Linked DNA regions of Homo sapiens: region 2 is linked to region 1. The links come from fine-mapping of genetic effects on plasma protein levels. A gene starts in region 1. The other region holds a variant in brackets. All regions are shown on one strand. Distances are between the middles of the regions. Region 1 holds the start of CACNB3 (calcium voltage-gated channel auxiliary subunit beta 3). Region 2 has its middle 7.1 kb from the start of ADCY6-DT.

What was found. PIP is the posterior inclusion probability: the model's chance that the variant is causal. Protein levels are from antibody-based Olink assays in UK Biobank. Linkage for the fine-mapping came from a reference panel and not from the study's own genotypes, which makes the PIPs less certain.
Region 2: its variant is fine-mapped to the plasma level of the CACNB3 protein (UK Biobank, PIP above 0.99).

What each region holds. Positions count from the first base shown.
Region 1 is chr12:48,815,204-48,823,526 of GRCh38, reverse strand. CACNB3 (calcium voltage-gated channel auxiliary subunit beta 3) reads right to left here and starts at 5,031. Exons shown (of 13, transcript NM_000725.4): 1 at 4,553-5,031; 2 at 61-183. The coding sequence starts at 4,597. LOC101927241 (a long non-coding RNA gene) reads left to right here and starts at 6,595. Exons shown (of 3, transcript XR_245978.4): 1 at 6,595-6,767. RefSeq lists silencers at 4,764-5,233, 7,940-8,019 and an enhancer at 7,970-8,323.
Region 2 is chr12:48,792,071-48,800,393 of GRCh38, reverse strand. It overlaps the pseudogene ADISSPP1. Among named protein-coding and RNA genes, the nearest start is that of ADCY6-DT, 7.1 kb to the right of the region's middle. RefSeq lists a silencer at 4,234-4,528. The variant A/G (reference allele first, on the strand shown) is at 3,185.

The DNA.
Region 1 (8,323 bases):
CCGAGTGCAGGTTTCCACCTAGCTTGGCCTCCTGTCTTGCCCCATGCCCAGAAAGTATACCTTGGCCCTTTCGAGCTGCTGCTGAGCCTGGCTCTCTACTTCACGCCGGGCACTCTCCCGGTCCTCCTCCAGGGAGACGTCTGAGTCCAGAGATGGGCGGCTGGTGTAGGAGTCGGCTGAACCCTGGGTTGGGAAAGAGGCTGTGACTCCCAGGCTCCGGCATGAAGGATGCCATGGAGGCACCCTCCTCACCTTACAGTGTTGCCTCTATTGCCCCCAGTTTCTCCATCTCCAAGGGGATAGCTGGGTCCCTATGGCCCCTCCTATCCCCTGAGAAGGGCCCCAGTGCCTCTGAGGCTACAGGAAAGCTGGCCCAATCCATAGGTGCAAAGATCTGGGCCCCTCCTCCCCCAAGCCTATTAATACTGCAGCTTTGAATAGAGCCTTCACTTCTCTCTTTCCTCCCTTTTCTCCCCTCTAACATGTCCTCTGAGCCGAGGGAAGGGAGGTGTGCTGAAGATGATGTATTAGAGATGATTCTGGATCCAGGAGACCCAGCCCTCTTGTTCATAGCAGCCTGCAAAGCAGCCTGGACATCATCCCTTTAAGATGCCTGTCAGGAGTCCAGCCAGCCGCAACAGTCAAGAGATGCTGGTTGGCACAGCACCAGTCCTGAATGTGGGGATCCAGCCATCTGCCCCCTAAGATTCCACTTTCCCTACTCCAACAAGGCTCTGAAGGCTCCCAAATGGTGAGCCCTTACCCTTCCAGGGTGAAGAGGAGGACACAAAGCTGCCAGCTCCTAGAAGTTACCTCCCCTTTGCTCTCCCCACCCCCTACTTTTCTTCCTTCCACACCTGCTGGGGCAACTAGCCAGGTGTGGGCAGCAAACAAGACACAGACCAAGAACACAAAGCTGTCTCCCTGGGTGCAGGTGAGGCTGGGCCACACCTACCACTTGGCCTACATCTCCCTAGTCCTTTCCCAGGCCCAGGGGACATCAGCCCTAGAAGAAGGCTATGCTAGTGCCAGGCAACCTAGCTACGGAGCAGGACCCCGGGGATGTGGGGAGGGGGTAACATGAGCAAGGAGAGTCTCTGAGTCCTGCCCATAGGAAAGGTCTTGGGCAATGAGGGTGCATTTGACGGTCACAGAGTTCAGCCTCAAGACCATGAGGGAGAGGCACAAATGAGTAAGGGACGCTGGACTTTGAGACAAGAGCCCAGAGGTTACAATGTCTGGGTTTCCTCCTCTGTCAGGGAAAGGGAGTCTTTCGTTTCCTGCCTCAGTTTTCCCTCTCTGTGGGGAGAAGCCTCAAGTGATACTTCCCACAATTCTGAGATGCCAGTGGCAGAGAGAAGGGATAAGCCTAGATAAGGGGTTCATGCAGGAGTGTGTGTGTGTATAGGGGAAGGGGCTTTAGAATGTCCTCAGGTAGAGGAACATTCTCTCAAGCTCACTGGGCATGACCACCTACGGAAGGCAGCAGAGGCCAGACTCTCAGAGAAGAAGGCAAAATCACATACCTGCTGTCAACCATGCCCTCTACCCCTACCCTGCCGTGGGCAAGAGGGCTGTTCAGCTAGGGGTCAGCCCAGGCTCTCGAGCCTTAGGCTAAAGACAGTGTCTATAGTAGACCAAAGGCCTGAAGATAGCACAAGGGGGAAAGATCTTTCATTTTACAGAAGAGTAGTCCGCCGACTGTTCCTCATCTCTCCTGAGAACAAAATGAGGCTGGATGGCAGCAGGATAAGTGGGGGATGAACCCCAGAAATAATCTTTGCACAGGGTGAGGGACCTCCTTCCCAGGGGTCTTAGGACACAAGAGAAACCTCTGTGGGATGTTGGTGTCTGAAGCAACCAGACAGGGGCCAACAGACTGGGAGGCAGGAGGCAAGGCAGATGACCACTCGCTTTGGTACAGATACATTGGGTACCTCCCAGAGGCCCAGAACTGTGCTAAAAGAGGAGTCTGACCTTTTCTGCCTGTGCTCCAGGCTCTCAGCCCAATTTAGTAATCTTTATTTTTATTATTTTATTTATTTACTTAGAGACAGGTCTTGCTCTGTCACCCAGGCTGGAGTGTAGTGGCACAATCGTAGCTCACTGCAGGCTTGAACTCCTGGGCTCAAGCGATCCTCCTGTCTCCTGAGTAGCTACGACTACAGGCATGCGCTACCATGCCTACTAGTTTTTTGTAGAGACAGGATCTTGCTATGTTGCCTAGGCTGGTCTCAAACTCCTGGGCTTAAGCCATCTTCCTACCTTAGCCTCCCAAAGCATTGGGATTATAGGCATGAGTCTCTATGCCTGGTTTAATTTAGTAATTTTTTTTTTTTTTTTGAGATGGAGTTTCACTGTGATGCCCAGGCTGGAATGTAATGGTGCGATGTCGGCTCACTGCAACCTCTGCCTCCCGGGTTCAAGCAATTCTACTGCCCCAGCCTCCTGAGTAGTTGGGACTACAGGCATGTGCCACCATGCTGGGCTAATTTTTATATTTTTAGTAGACACAGGGTTTCACCATATTGGCCAGGCTGGTCTCCAACTCCTGACCTCAAGTGATCTACCTCGGCCACCCAAAGTGCTGGGATTACAGGTGTGAGGCACCGCTGGCGGCCTAATTTAGTAATCATAACGCCTGAGGCATCTGGCTTACCTGACCTCTCACCCTGGGATGGGAATCACAGGATCTCTTCCTAAATATTTAATGAGTTGTGCTCAGAATGGAACCCCCTCTCCATTACTCCCAAGTCCTCCAGGCTCACTCATCTCTAGTGCTCCAGTATTACTTGGGGAGGCCAGGGCTGCCCTGCCAAGCATGATCTAGGGTCTTACCTTTCCTGTACCCTGCTACGCCAAAATAGCCAGAGTTTCAGTACTTTGGAGCTGCCAGGAGTTGGCACAGTGCCCTGGTGGTGCCCCCCTTGCCTAGTGAGTGTGTGGGCAGGCTGCAGCTCCTCTCTTGCCTGGCACGGGGGAAGGAGAGGAGGGAGATGAGCCGTTGGATTTATTTAGAGCCTGATCTCCCTCCTACTGCTTCAGAGGGGGCCTCAGGGAGAGCAAGGAGCCAGGCAAGAGAAAGGGAAGTGGGGGAGGGTGATCAGAGCCAGAGAGAGATGGGAGGGAGCAATGGGTCAGCAGGCTGCCCTCCAACACCATCCACATGTCAGTCTGCTCCTTGCAATAGCCCTTGCCTTCTCACCAGGGATGGGAAGAACCTCCTAGGGCCATCCAGCCCCACAGAGAGGTTTGTTTTCAAGCTCACCTTGGCACCCTGGGCTATACCAGCTGTCCCTTCAACTGTCAGAAAGAGGTGTCCACCAGAGCCTTGAAAATGATCTGATCTAGCGGCAATGTAATTAGCCCCAGAGGCCCCATGGAGAATTGGGCCCAGAAGGAGACCAGTCCCAGAAAAGGACAGTTGCCTATTCTGAACATCAGCATTCATCTATCCTGGGCCTGGCAGTAAGTGATGGGAGAAGACTTGAACATGAACTCCTCTTTCCGACCCAGGGGTGCTCCAACCTATTGGGGCCCCTTCCAAGCCATCTAGTGGTCCACTCCTAAGGAGGCCTTCTTACAGGACATTTGAGGGAAAGTTGTCAGCTCCAAGGGGCTGAGAAGCTGCTCCGCATTCTTGCCCCATCTTTCCAGGCACTCTCCCTGCTGTCTGAGCTCCGGGAATCACTGCTTAATGAGCTGATTTGTCTCAGTGGGTCAGGAGATAAAAGCAAAGAGGAGAATTAAATATTTATCGGTTGCCTGTTTCTCTGAGCAAAGCGCTTCCTCTCCATCCCCAGGCCCTCAGCTCCTCTGGCCTCACCTCCAGGCCCTCCATGCTGGGCAAGAGCTCAGGATGCCCGCTGCAGAGGAAGCCTCAGCAGGGGGCTGTGGAATAGATGGGGCTCAGTCACCTGGCCTACCCATGTGCTGGGCGCCCAGGTTTCAGCCTGGGAGAGAAACTGGGCTAGAGAAAGGGTGAGGAGATGAGGCAATGCGCAGAGATGGAGGGGGTGGAAGGGAATAATGGAGCTCCTCAAGTTTTAGGATCCGTCTGTCTGAAGAGGTTGGCCCCTGGCTCCCTGATGTCCTCTCAGCTCCCTGATGTGTCGTTTGCTTGAGGCACAAGAGGTCTAGAATGTCTGCCTCCCCAACCACCTCGGCGGCTCTCCTAGCTGTTGTGTTCAGACCCCAGAAATCCAGAATTTGGAACTCCAGACATGGCGTGTTCCCTCTCCAGAGCCTCTGTGCCCTCGGCCTCCAGCCCTGCCTTCTCCCACCCCTCTTTCCTGGGCCGTGGAGCCACCTGCTTGAGCCCTTCCCCTATACTGCCCCCTCTCTGCACACACCCGATGCCCCAGGGTCTGAGTCTGGGTCGCTGGGGAACGCTTGGCATGAAAATCCATCTCCCCACGTTCTTAGAGCGCCCCCCTACAAACCCTGCCCTGCCACTGAGGCGTTTTTCAAAGTCCTGAACCGGGGAAAGGGTTGAAGGGAGAGGAGGTGTCACCCCAACTTCCCCGCCCCCACCCTCATCGTGGGCACTCACCGCCTCCGAGTCCTCAAACCCGGGCACGTAGGAGTCGTCATACATGGGGGAGTCCGGGTCGGGGGAGCGAGCGGCGCCGGGGGCGGGAGCGGCCCGGAGGCAGGGGCAAGGACTGCGGGCCGCGCCCGGGAGATGCCACCGAGCCCCGCAGCCCTGCGGGCGGCGGCAGGGAGCGAGAGAGCGCGAAGGAGGGAGCGAGCCGCGAAGACCAGCTGCTCGGAGCTCAGATCACCGCTCCCCCCACCCCACCCCCCCAAACCCAGCCGGTCCCACCCCGAGCGCGGCTGAGGAATCTGGCGCCGGCTCCTACAACAATAGTGCCCGCCCACCTGACCCCCTCCCCGGGAGAAGGCGGGGGCGGCGAGGGGGCGGCGGCCACCGGGGAGCCCGGGCCAGGCCGGGAGAGGGGAACGAACCCGTGCTAGGTGGAAGGTGGGTCCCCGAGCACCTACGGGGCCGTGGCGGCGGGGAGGAAGGGGAGGAGAGGCTGCGGGCAGGGCGGATCCAGGCAGGGAGGAGGCGGGGCGAGGAGAGATGCGGAGACAGAGACGCTCGGCAACCCAGGAACTACTCCGCCGGGAAACAAAGGGCTGCGGCGGGGGAGGGAGGGGGCGCTGAGACCGCGAGGGAGACGCGACCCGGGCGGAGACTGGAGAGGGCGCAGGTGTCGAGGAAACCGGAGAGAGAGAGGCAGAGGGAGGACGGAGAGGACAGGAAAATGGGGAGACCGTGGGAGACAGAAGAGGCGCGGGAACGAGCGGCAGACGGGGGAGGGGTCCCAGGCGACAGCAGGGCGGGTCTGGGCCCGTGCGTCCCGGAGGCTCCGAAAGCAAACCCCGCAGTGGTCCCGGGGAGGAATGGGCTTGGTGCCCCCAGGCTAATGACAGGACGGCAGCTCCTGCCCCAACAGGTGCCCGGCCCCCTCAGTACGGGGACGCTGCGGCAAAGGCGGTGTTGCCCAACCCTTGAGAAGGGGGGAACTTTCCGTGAGCTGGGTAGGCCTCCCCACACCTGTTGCACGGATAGATTTTGTCTTAGTCCTGCCAGGATGGGGGTTCCCTTCCCCACTTCCCTGCCAAGGATTGTGCCAGACAGTGCCAAGGCATCCGTGGGAACTGGGGCAGAAAGGGGCTGTTTTAGGTGAGCCTAAAGGGAAGGGGAAAGAAGCCAGAGGGTGGAGGTAGGGGGATAGTTGTGGGTGGGATCCTGGCTACACTCGGGTTGGGAGAGGAAAGGGCCAGTCTCCTCGGAGTCACTAGGGTAAGGCCAGATTCTCCCCTTAGCAGAAGGGCTTGTACCACTCTGCACCACTCAGTCTCCTTTACAGGAGCATTGAGATTTGGGGTAAGAGAGCCGCAGCCCTTATCTTGAGGAAACTTTCCCCAAAGATCCACCCATTTGAGCTCTTTCCTTTTTTCATCTCCTGAGCAAAATTCCTTCTTTGATTTTTGACTGCCTACCTTTGTGCCCCACGAGGAGGATGTGCGTAGACAGGGGTTACACTTGGAGGCCTCCTGGTGCCCATGCTCTTGGCCCTGAGCTCAGTCCTTTTCCTTCCCAATTTCTCACACCCGGGAGTTCAGCAATCTGCTCATCCCTCCTTGGCTTGAGGAGAATCAGAAATCCAAAACTCTGACATGGCTTAGTAAGATCTATGGTAGAAAGCACTGTGCATGGGAGAGAGAAAGCCCACCCAAACCAAGTGGCTTCCCACCTGGGTCACTTATCGGTGTTATCTTGGCAAGACAAAGAAGAGCTGCATCTTCAGACTGACATCTTTAGTCTGTCTACTGTGGGTGGCCCAGAGCAGCCCTGCCCAGCACCTTCCTCATGCTGGGTTTGACAAACAACTTTGTTGCAGCCCCTGTGGCTGAAGGGACTGTCTCCTCTCCTGAGTCCAGCACCAACTGGGGTTTGGTCATATACTGGATTCTTCTGTATTGGAAGTTCCCAGACACTGCCCACTTTTGTGCCCTCACCCAGTTACGCAGTATTCCTTGTATCCCCCTCTTTCATCCTTTCTCTTCAATTCCTTCTTTCAGGGGCCTGGAGAGGTGTCAAAGAGTAAGACCCTCAAGGTGCTCTTCTCCTGGGAGATGGCTCTAGTGAAGAAAGCAGTGGTGGAGGCAGCTGTTTCTCTTCCCATCCCTGCATCCACTCTCCTGGCCTCTCCTTTTGGGACTCTCTCCACCCACAGAAGGTCCTGGGGCTGTAGGTAACAGCGGATCTGCCATCGGCAGCACTCCTTCCTCACACTCCTTGTAATCTCCTGCGACAAGGTTGTCTAAGTCTGCTCCTGAGGCATGTGTTGCCATGCCAACCATCCCCAGGAGATGGGTTCAAGCTCCTCATACCTGGGCCCATCCCCTGGGTCCTGCAGTAGCTTCAGAGCTTCCCTCCTTCTTCTCATATCTCTGGGTTGCTACCCAATGTTCCTTTCATTTCTCACCCACACCTGCCTACTCTAGTTCTAATACCAACTTGGTGACTTCTTGTCCTGTGACAGGACATGTGCCTGTCAGTGTCCATGTAGCCCTAACCTCTTTTCTTTTTCATGGCTGGGCATAAAGGGAGAGAGCTGAGGGCAATAAAGGATCAGGGGAGAGGCTCCTCCTGCTGATTCTTTCTAGGAGAGAGTTGTTAGACTGGCAGCTGGCAGGTACCCAAGTCATAGAAGCAAGACATAAGAGGAAAAGCCTGAATAATCAGGTTTGGGAGCTGGAATATATTGAAACCTTCTTGGGAGGTTTCAGAATATATTCTAGCTTCTCCTCTAAGTGTACCAGGAAGCTGGGCAGATCCCAGTCCCTGGGCACTGAATGGGGAAACTGAGACAGAAGCTAGGCCTTCTGGGAAGACTTAAAGACTCCTCCCCAGCAGTTTTTAAGATCTGGACCAGGTGGAGGCCCCTACCATTCTGGCTGCTAGGCTGCCAGGGAACTCAGGGACAGGCGCTAGGGGAGCTTGGCAGAGCCCTTCTTGTAATCTAGCCCCTTTTTTTCTGGCTCCTCAGTCAGTCCTCTCCTCTCATCCAATCCCAGTACTAGGAAGCTGCCAGCTCTGGCCGCTCCCTCCTCTCTAACCCGGTGCCTCTTCCACCCCTGGCCTCACTTCCTCCGGTTTCCCTGCCTCCCCATCGGTGCAGTCTCCCCCAAACGCGTGCCCCCTTCCTAGCTTGGAGCGGAGCTCTCCTCCCACCCAGTGGGGAACCCCCTTCCCACGACCCCACACCCCCCCCACGGTTACCTCGTTCAGCAGGAAGGTTGCACTGGAGTCAGAAAAAGACATAGACCAGGCTAGCGGCCTCTCCCCCTCCCCCGGGCCAGGGGCTCCGAGGCGGGAGCAAAACCCGGCCGCTGCTCTGCACGCTGCTCCCGCCTGCACGCCTGGCCTCGCCCCACGCCCGCCGGGCTCCGCCGCCTGCTCCCTTCCCTCTCCCCTGGTTCCCTCCCTCTTTCTCCTCCCTCCTCCCTCCCTCCCTCTCCCTTCCTTTCTCGCCGCCTCTGTCAGTCTCTGGCTCTCCCTGCCTTTCAGCCCAGCCTCTCTCCACTTCCGTCTCTCCTGTCTAAGGTCCTCGTTCTGTTTTTCCGTGTGCCTCCCACTGTCCTTCCATCCCCACGTCGCACCCTCGCTCCTCGGCTTCCCCTGCCGCTCTGCTTCTTCCCTAAAGTCCTCCCGAGAAAGAGTAGGGACTCTGGAGTTTCCGCCGCCGCGGGCAGAAGGGCAGGAAGAGCTCCAGGGCTGCCCCAGCTCCTGAGCTCTTGGCGGAAG
Region 2 (8,323 bases), 23 kb after region 1:
GCCACCACCCTGCCTCTCCTGCATCCTCCTCTTCCACTTCCTCCTCTCCGTGTGCCTCAGTCTCCTGCCAGAAGAAATGGCTTGAGCCCTCAAGGAGGCTGTCTGAGGAAGGAAGGGGAGGGCCTGGGGTGGGTACTCCCACTCCCCACCCCAAGCCATAGGGGCTCCAGCCAGGGTCTGGGAGAGGACGGAGCTGGTTCTCTGAGGTCGTGGCCCCGTTACCTCTGCTGCTGCCTTGCTTCAGCCGCCTCTCCTGCCCCTCCCTCGTTCGCACTGCTGTCCTCCATGAGTAGCAGGGAGGTGCAGTCCCCAGCTCCTACCCCTCAGGTCTGTGTTACTTGATTTTTAAGCGAGTGGTTGGGATAGAATCCTAAAGAAATAAAACTTCCAGTGTGGGGGCGGGGTGGGGGGGAGACGACCCTTGTCCCCAGTGTTACTCCCAAACATTTGTGTGATATGCCGGCAAGGATCAGGGAGATAACCGATTTCAGTTATCTGCACTCACATACAGGCCCTTTGAGGCTTGTGAGATGAGAAAGTTTGATATTGTTAATCTTTTCAGTCTCTCTCACCTCTTACACACATATACAGAGCTGGCTTCCTGGACCACTTCTGGAAAGAGCAAAATCTACTTTTTCCATGGCAACTATTTAGCCAAGGAGACTGGGAGTAAAAGGGAGGATGTCCCTATGACCCTCTCCTTACTACTCTAAAATATCTTTTTTTTTTCTTTTGAGGTGGAGTCTTGCGCTGTTGCCCAGTCTGGAGTGCAGTGGCGTGATCTCGGCTCACTACATCTTCCGTCTCCTGGGTTCAAGCGATTCTCGTGCCTCAGCCTCCTGAGTAGCTGGGGTTACAGGTGTGTACCACCACACCCAGCTAATTTTTGTATTTTTAGTAGAGACGGAGTTTCGACATGTTGGCCAGGCTGGTCTTGAACTCCTGCCCTCAAGCCATCCACCCACCTTGGCCTCCCAAAGTGCTGGGATTACAGGTGTGAGCCACCATGCCTGGCCTTTTTTTTTTTTTTTTCTTTTTTGAGTAAAATATCTTAAAGAAAAGTGTGGGCATCATGATAGTCCACCAAGAAATACTTCAGTAGTATCACTCAGAAAGAACATATTTCAACCACCATATGATCTGGCAATCCCACTATTGGGTATATATCTGAAGAAATAAAACCAGTATGTTGAAGAGATATCTGCACTCCCATATTTATTGCAGCTTTATTCACAATAGCCAAGATATAGTAACTGGGCACAGTGGCTCACATCTATAGTCCCAGCTACTCTGGAAAGCTGAGGCAGGAGGATTGCTTGAGTCCAGGAGTTGGAAGCTGCAGGGCACTATGATCATGCCTGTGAATAGCCACTGCCCTCCAGCCTGGGCAACAAAGCAAGATCTGTCCTTATTAAAAAAAAAAAAAAAAAAAAAAAAAAAAAAAAAAAAAGGCCAGGCGCAGTGGCTCATGCCTGTAATCCCAACACTTTGGGAGGCCAAGACAGGCAGATCACAAGGCCAGGAGTTCAAGACCAGCTTGACCAATATGGTGAAACCTCGTCTCTACTAAAAATACAAAAATTAGCCTGGCGTGGTGGCGAGCGCCTAGCTACTCACGAGCCTGAGGCAGGAGAATTGCTTGAACCCAGGAGGCAGAGGTTGCAGTGAGCCAAGGTTGTGCCACTGCACTCCAGCCTGGGCGACAGAGCGAGACTCCGTCTCAGAAAAAAAAAACAAAAAAAACAAAAAACAACACACACAATAGCCAAGATATGGAATCACCCTGAGTGTCCATCAACAGAAAAATGGATAAAGAAAATGCAGTATACAGTATATATATTATGTAATAATATTCAGCCATAAAAAAGAATGAAATTTTGCAATTTATGGCAATATGGATGAACCTGGAGGATATTATGCTAAGTGAAATGAGCCCAGCACAGAAAGACAAATGCCATGTGATCTCTTTTTTTTTTTGAGACGGAATCTCTCTGTCACCTAGGCTGGAGTGCAATGGTGTGGTCTTGGCTCACTGCAACCTCCACCTCCTGGGTTCAAATGATTCTCCTGCCTCAGCCTCCCAAGCAGCTGGTACTACAGGTGCATGCCACCACACCCGGCTAATTTTTGTATTTTTAGTAGAGACGGGGTTTCACTGTGTTGGCCAGGCTGGTCTCGAACTCCTGACCTCATGATCCGCCCGCCTTAGCCTCCCAAAGTGCTGGGATTACAGGCATGAGCTATTGCACCTGGCCATGATCTCATTTATACGTGGAATCTTAGAAAGTTGAACTTGTAGAAAAAGTAGAATGGCAGTTACCGGAGGCTGGGGAGTGGGAGGATTGGGCCGAAATGAAGTTGGCCAAAGGATACAAAATCTGTTAGATGAGAGGAATAAGTTCAAGACATCTATTGCACAACGTGGTGAATAGAGTTAATAGCAATGCATCTTATACTTGAAATTGCTAAAAGAGTAGATTTTAGGTGTTCTCACCACCAAAAAAAAAAGATAAGCATGTGAAGTGATGCATATGTTAATTAGCTTGATTTAACCATTTCACAATGTATACATATTTCAAAACATGTTGTACACAATTTACGTACATATATATAATTTTTATTTGTCAATTTAAATAAATAAATAAATGTTAAAATTAGGGGGAATTTCTTAGTGTCAAAATAACATTACCCGGCCGGGCACGGTGGCTCACGCCTGTAATCCCAGCACTTTGGGAGGCCCAGGCGGGCGGATCATGCGGTCAGGAATTCAAGAACAGCCTGACCAACATGGTGAAACCCTGTCTCTACTAAAAATACAAAAATTAGCCGGTCTTGGTGGCACGCGCCTGTAATCCCAGCTACTCAGGAGGCCGAGGCAGGAGAATCACTTGAACCCGGGAGATGGAGGTTGCAGCGAACCTGAGATCCTGCCACTGAACTTCAGCTGGGTGACAGTGCGAGACTCCGTCTCAAAAAAAAATAAAAAAATAAAAAAATAACATTACCCTTCCCTAACACAATTAAACATAATTCCATCTAATATCCAGCACACTTTCAAGTTTCATCATTTGTAAGAGGGGTTAACTTTGATGGGTTTGGGTGGGGGAAGAATTTAAAAAGCCCTCAAGAAGGAAGTGGCATTTTGAGGAGTCCTTGAAAGATGACTAACAGCTACCACATTGTG[A/G]CAGGCAAACCTGAGATGGCCACAAATGATCCCCACGTCTTGGTATTCATGCCCTTGAGTAATCCCCTCCCCTTGACTGTGGGCTGGCCTAGAGACTTACTTCTGATCCATCAGAAGGTGATGGACGGCACTTCTATAATGAGGCTATAAGAGACCATTGACTTCTGTTTGCTAGCGGAATCTCTTCTTGCTGGCTTGGATGAAGACATGCTGCCATGTGGCAGAGGCCTAAGGGAAAGGTGCCTGAGGCCCTCAGTCCAGCAGCCCAGCCCATATGGAACTGAATCCTATCAACGACCACATGAGCTTGGAATTGGATCCTTCCTTATTCCAACCATAGATGAGACTGAAGCCTCAGCTAACATCTTGCTTGTAGCTTTGTGAGACCTTGAAGTAGAGGACCCCACTGAGCTATGCTCAGTCTCCTGATAGGCAGAAACTATGAAACAGTAAACGTGTGTTGCTTTAGGCTGCTAAATGTGTGGTAATTTGTTACGCAGCAATAGAGAACTAATACACTTGTTTAATAAAAATGGCCTTGTGCATGGAAGTCATTGCTATCCTCCCTTTTTTACTAAGGGGGAAACTAAGGCCCAGAAAGGCTTGATGAATTGCCCAACACATACCAGTCATCTTGATTGTAAAAACAGAAACAGACTCCAACTAATGGGAGCAGAAATGACATTTGTTGGAAGGATAGTGAATAACTTGCTCACAGAACTGATAGAAAGGCAAGAGTATAAGGCGTAAAAAACAGGCAGGAACAAAGAGAAATTAGGCAGCAGGAATGATAGGAGGGTCAAGTTCGGGCTTCTGACACTGCTGCTGAAAGCAGAATGAATTCTAAACCGCTCTTGCTTCTTCACACCCCCCAGCTCCAGACTCTAAGCTTTTGGTAGGAGTGGCCAGTCATCTGAGCTTGGGTCAGCGGGTTGGTGACTGGGATCAGTTCACAGTAGGTGCTCAAACATGGTTAATTCAACTCATAAAAGACGAATCTGGCATTGCGTATAAAACTAGATGGAGGGTGCGCTCATCCCTCCAACACCCAGAGACCAGTGTTCCAGCCCTTCCCTGATTTCCAGAATTTCCCATACTGCCCCTAGGAGCCGTGAGCCAGAGAAGACTATAGATTGAGTAGCGAAAAGTTGGGAACTAACTATGGGCTGCAGTACCATGATTGTGCCACCAGAGGGCATACAAGACCCAGACATTTACTAAGGTGGGGACGAGGGAATAGGTGCTGGCGGAATGGGATAGTGAAGACTGAGGAAGTCTGGGCTCTGGAAACCCAGAGAAGGACTAGCAGTGGTGTGGGCACCAAGAGTTGCCTCATCCTCATGGCCCTAGCTGTACTCCCTCTCCACTCTGGAAGCTTTGGGCTCTCCTGGTCTTTGCTCTGAGACCTTTAAGAGGACTTTGGACTCTTCTTTTTATGGCATCAATTCTCCAACTGTAAATACTGCCCCCACCCCATCAGTTCCAGATCGGCATTGGAATAGAGTGCAGGGGTGGGTAGGGTGGGGTAATGGGTGTGCCTCTCGCCCTGCAAATGGGGTGAGGTTGGGATGGGCAGTAGCTTCCTCAAACTAGAGCTCCTATGGCAGTAGGGCAGAAGGAGGTGGAGTGGGCCTTCTCCTCTGGGCTGTAACTTCCAGTGCGTAGCACAGCGCCTGGGACGTGGTAGGAACTCAATAAATATTTGTCGATTGTTGATAATTATTTGATATGCATAAACCATGCAGAGAGAGCCAAGGCAGGTCATTAGGGTACTCCAACTCCAAAACATTTCCTGAGTCCTTCCACTTCTCAGCAGCCCCGCCCTCTATCACCATCCTTGTCCAAGCCACTGTTTCCACCTGGACCACTATAATAGCTTTCTAAGTGGTTTCCCTTGCATCCCTTGATCCCACAATTTATTCTCCACTCAGCAGCTACCATGATCCTTTAAAACCATAAATCAGATCGTGCCACTTCTGAGCTTAACACCTTCCAAAGGCTTCTCATTACACTTTCAATGAAATCCAAACTCCTTTCCCTGGCCTAAGAGCTTCTCCACTAGCTAGGGCATGCCTCCCTTTCTGACCTCATCTTATACTTTCTTCCTTCAACACATGGGCTTCAGCCTCACTGACTTTCTGTTTCTTAAGCACCGTGAGCTTGCTATTGCCTTAGGGCTTTTGCATTAGCTGTTCCCTCTGAAATGCTCTTTACCCAGATTCTTTGCATGGCTGACTCCTTGTCATTCAGGTCTGCATGTACATAGCACTTCCTTATAGGGACCTTTCTTGACAGCCATACCTAGGTTTCTACCCCAGTCACTTCCTATCGATCCTGGGTTCTAATTGTCATCATAGCACTTATCATCAACTATCTTCTCATCTATTCTTTTTTTTTTTTCCCGAGATGGAGCCTTGCTTTGTCACCCAGGCTGGAGTGCAGTGGCAGGATCTCAGCTCACTGCAACCTCCGCCTCCAGGGTTCAAGCAATTATCCTGCCTCAGCCTGCTGAGTAGCTGGGATTACACACACCCGGCTAATTTTCGTATTTTTAGTAGAGATGGGGTTTCACCATGTTGGCCAGGCTCGTCTTGAACTCCTGACCTTGCAATCCACCAGCTTTGGCCTCCCAAAGTGCTGGGATTACAGGCATGAGCCACCATGCCCAGCTTATTCTTTTTTTTGTTTTGTTTTTTTTTGAGACAGTGTCTCGGTCTGTCACCCAGGCTGGAGTGCAGTGGTGCAATCACGGCTCACTGCAACCTTGCCCTCCTGGGCTCAAGTGATCCTCCTGCCTCAGCCTCCTGAGTAAGCTGGAACCACAGGTGCACAGCACCACACTTGGCTAATTTTTAAAATTTTTTAGTCGAGATGAGGTCTCGCTATGTTGACCAGGCTGGTCTCAAACTCCTGAGCTCAAGCAATCCTCCTGCCAAAGTGCTGGGATTATAGGCATGAGACACTGCACCTGGCTCATCATTTTTTCATAAGTTTTTAAATAATTTTTTTTTGTAGAGATGGGGTCTCACCATGTTGCCCAGGCTGGTCTCAAACTCTTGGGCTCAAGTGATCCTTGTGCTTCAGCCTCCCAAAGTGCTGGGATTGCAGGTGTGAGCTGCCATGCCCAGCCTCATCTATTCATTTATTTCTTGTTTCCTCCCACTAGAAGGTAAGCTTAATGAGACTAGGAACTCTGTCTGCTGAGTTCAATTACTGTATCCTCAGCACCTATTAATAGAAGAGTGCCTAACACATAGTAGCGAGAGTAGGTGACAGGGCGAGACTCCATCTCAAAAATAAATAAATAAATAAATAAATAAATAAATAAATATGGGATGAATGAATAATGGATCTAAGGGGATGGGGAAGGGATTTTGTATCCCCCTGGAGTTGAGCCCATTCTCAAGGGTAGTGGTGGTGGTGGCGGTGGAAATGGAGTTGGCCAGAGCCTATTCCAACCCTGGAAGTAGAAGGGGTTGTGAGTCTCTGGAGTGGTGATGGTGGTGGTGGTGGTAGCAGCAGTGATGTTAGGGGTAGTGAAACGGACAAGGCATATTTGCTAGATTGAATGAATGTGTTTTTTTTGTTTTGTTTTGTTTTTTGAGACGGAGTCTCACTCTGTTCCCCAGGCTGTAGTGCAGTGGTGCAATCTCGGCTCACTGCAACCTCTGCCTCCCGAGTTCAAGCTATTCTCCTGCGTCAGCCTCCCCAGTAGCTGGGACTACAGGCGCGTGTCACTATACCGGGCTAATTTTTGTAGTTTTAGGAGAGACGGGGTTTCACCTTGTTGGGCAGGCTGGTCTCAAACTCCTGACTCAGGTGATCTGCCCGCCTTGGCCTCCCAAAGTGATGGGATTACAGGCACCAGCAACCGCACCCAGCTGTGAATTGTTTTTATATGTCTTTCTTACTTTCAGAAAATAAAATGTGCAGACTTTTGGTGTTTTTTCTTTTTTTTTTTTTTTGAGACGGAGTTTCGCTCTCGTTGCCCAGGCTGGAGTGCAATGGCGCGATCTTGGCTCACCGCAACCTCCGCCTTCCAGGTTCAAGCAATTCTCCTGCCTCAGCCTCCCGAGTAGCTGGGATTACAGGCATGCACCACCATGCCCGGCTAATTTTGTATTTTTATAGTAGAGACGGGGTTTCTCCATGTTGAGGCTGGTCATGAACTCCTGACCTCAGGTGATCCTCCCGCCTCGGCCTCCCAAATTGCTGGGATTACAGGCGTGAGCCACCGCGCCTGGCCAAATTGTGCAGACTTTTGATCTTTAAGACAGAAAAGCTAGGGAATGGTTGTTTGCATTGTAAAAGGAATCTTTGCTTTGTAAAAGGGCGTAGGCAGAGGCTAGTTTAGCTGTAACCCAAACAACCCAAGGAAGGCTCAGGGCACTCAAGCCTATCCGTTAGTTACATTGCAGGGTGTTTTCAACACTGCTTATGTATAGAGTGTTGTCCAGATACACTTTTGGCTGTGTGAAGCTTACACTTACATATAATACATTCTGCTTGTAAGAGTTTCCTCTTCCTGAAAATGAGAGATTGAAAATACATCACTCTTGTGACTATGGTCTGTATTATTAAAAAAAAAAAAAAAAGGTCGTTGAGATCAAGCAAGCTAGACGTGGAGAAATACAGTTCCTGCTGACTGCCTCTCTCTTTCTTCTCTTTGTCAGAGTTAAAACCTTCCAATTGGCCATGCGCGGTGGCTCATGCCTGTAATCCCAACACGTTGGTAGGCCACAACGGGTGGATTGCTTGAGCTCGAGTTTGAGACCAGCCTGGACAACATGGTGAAACCTGTCTCTATTAAAAATACAAAAATTAGCCGGGCATGGTGGCAAGCGCCTGTAGTCTCAGCTACTTGGGAGGCTGACGTAGAATCGCTTGAACTCAGGAGGCAGAGGTTACAGTGAGCCGAGATCGTGCCATTGCACTCCAGCCTGGGCAACAGAGCAAGACCCTGTCTCAAAAAAAAAAAAAAAAGTCCTAATATTCTGTAGTGCTAGAAATAGATTTGATGGTGGCCCTGCCCTGTCGGAACTTAAGACTCTAATATTCATGTCCGGCATGCACCTGTAATCCCAGCTACTGGGGAGGCTAAGGCAGGAGAATCACTTGAACTCAGGTGGCAGAAGCTGC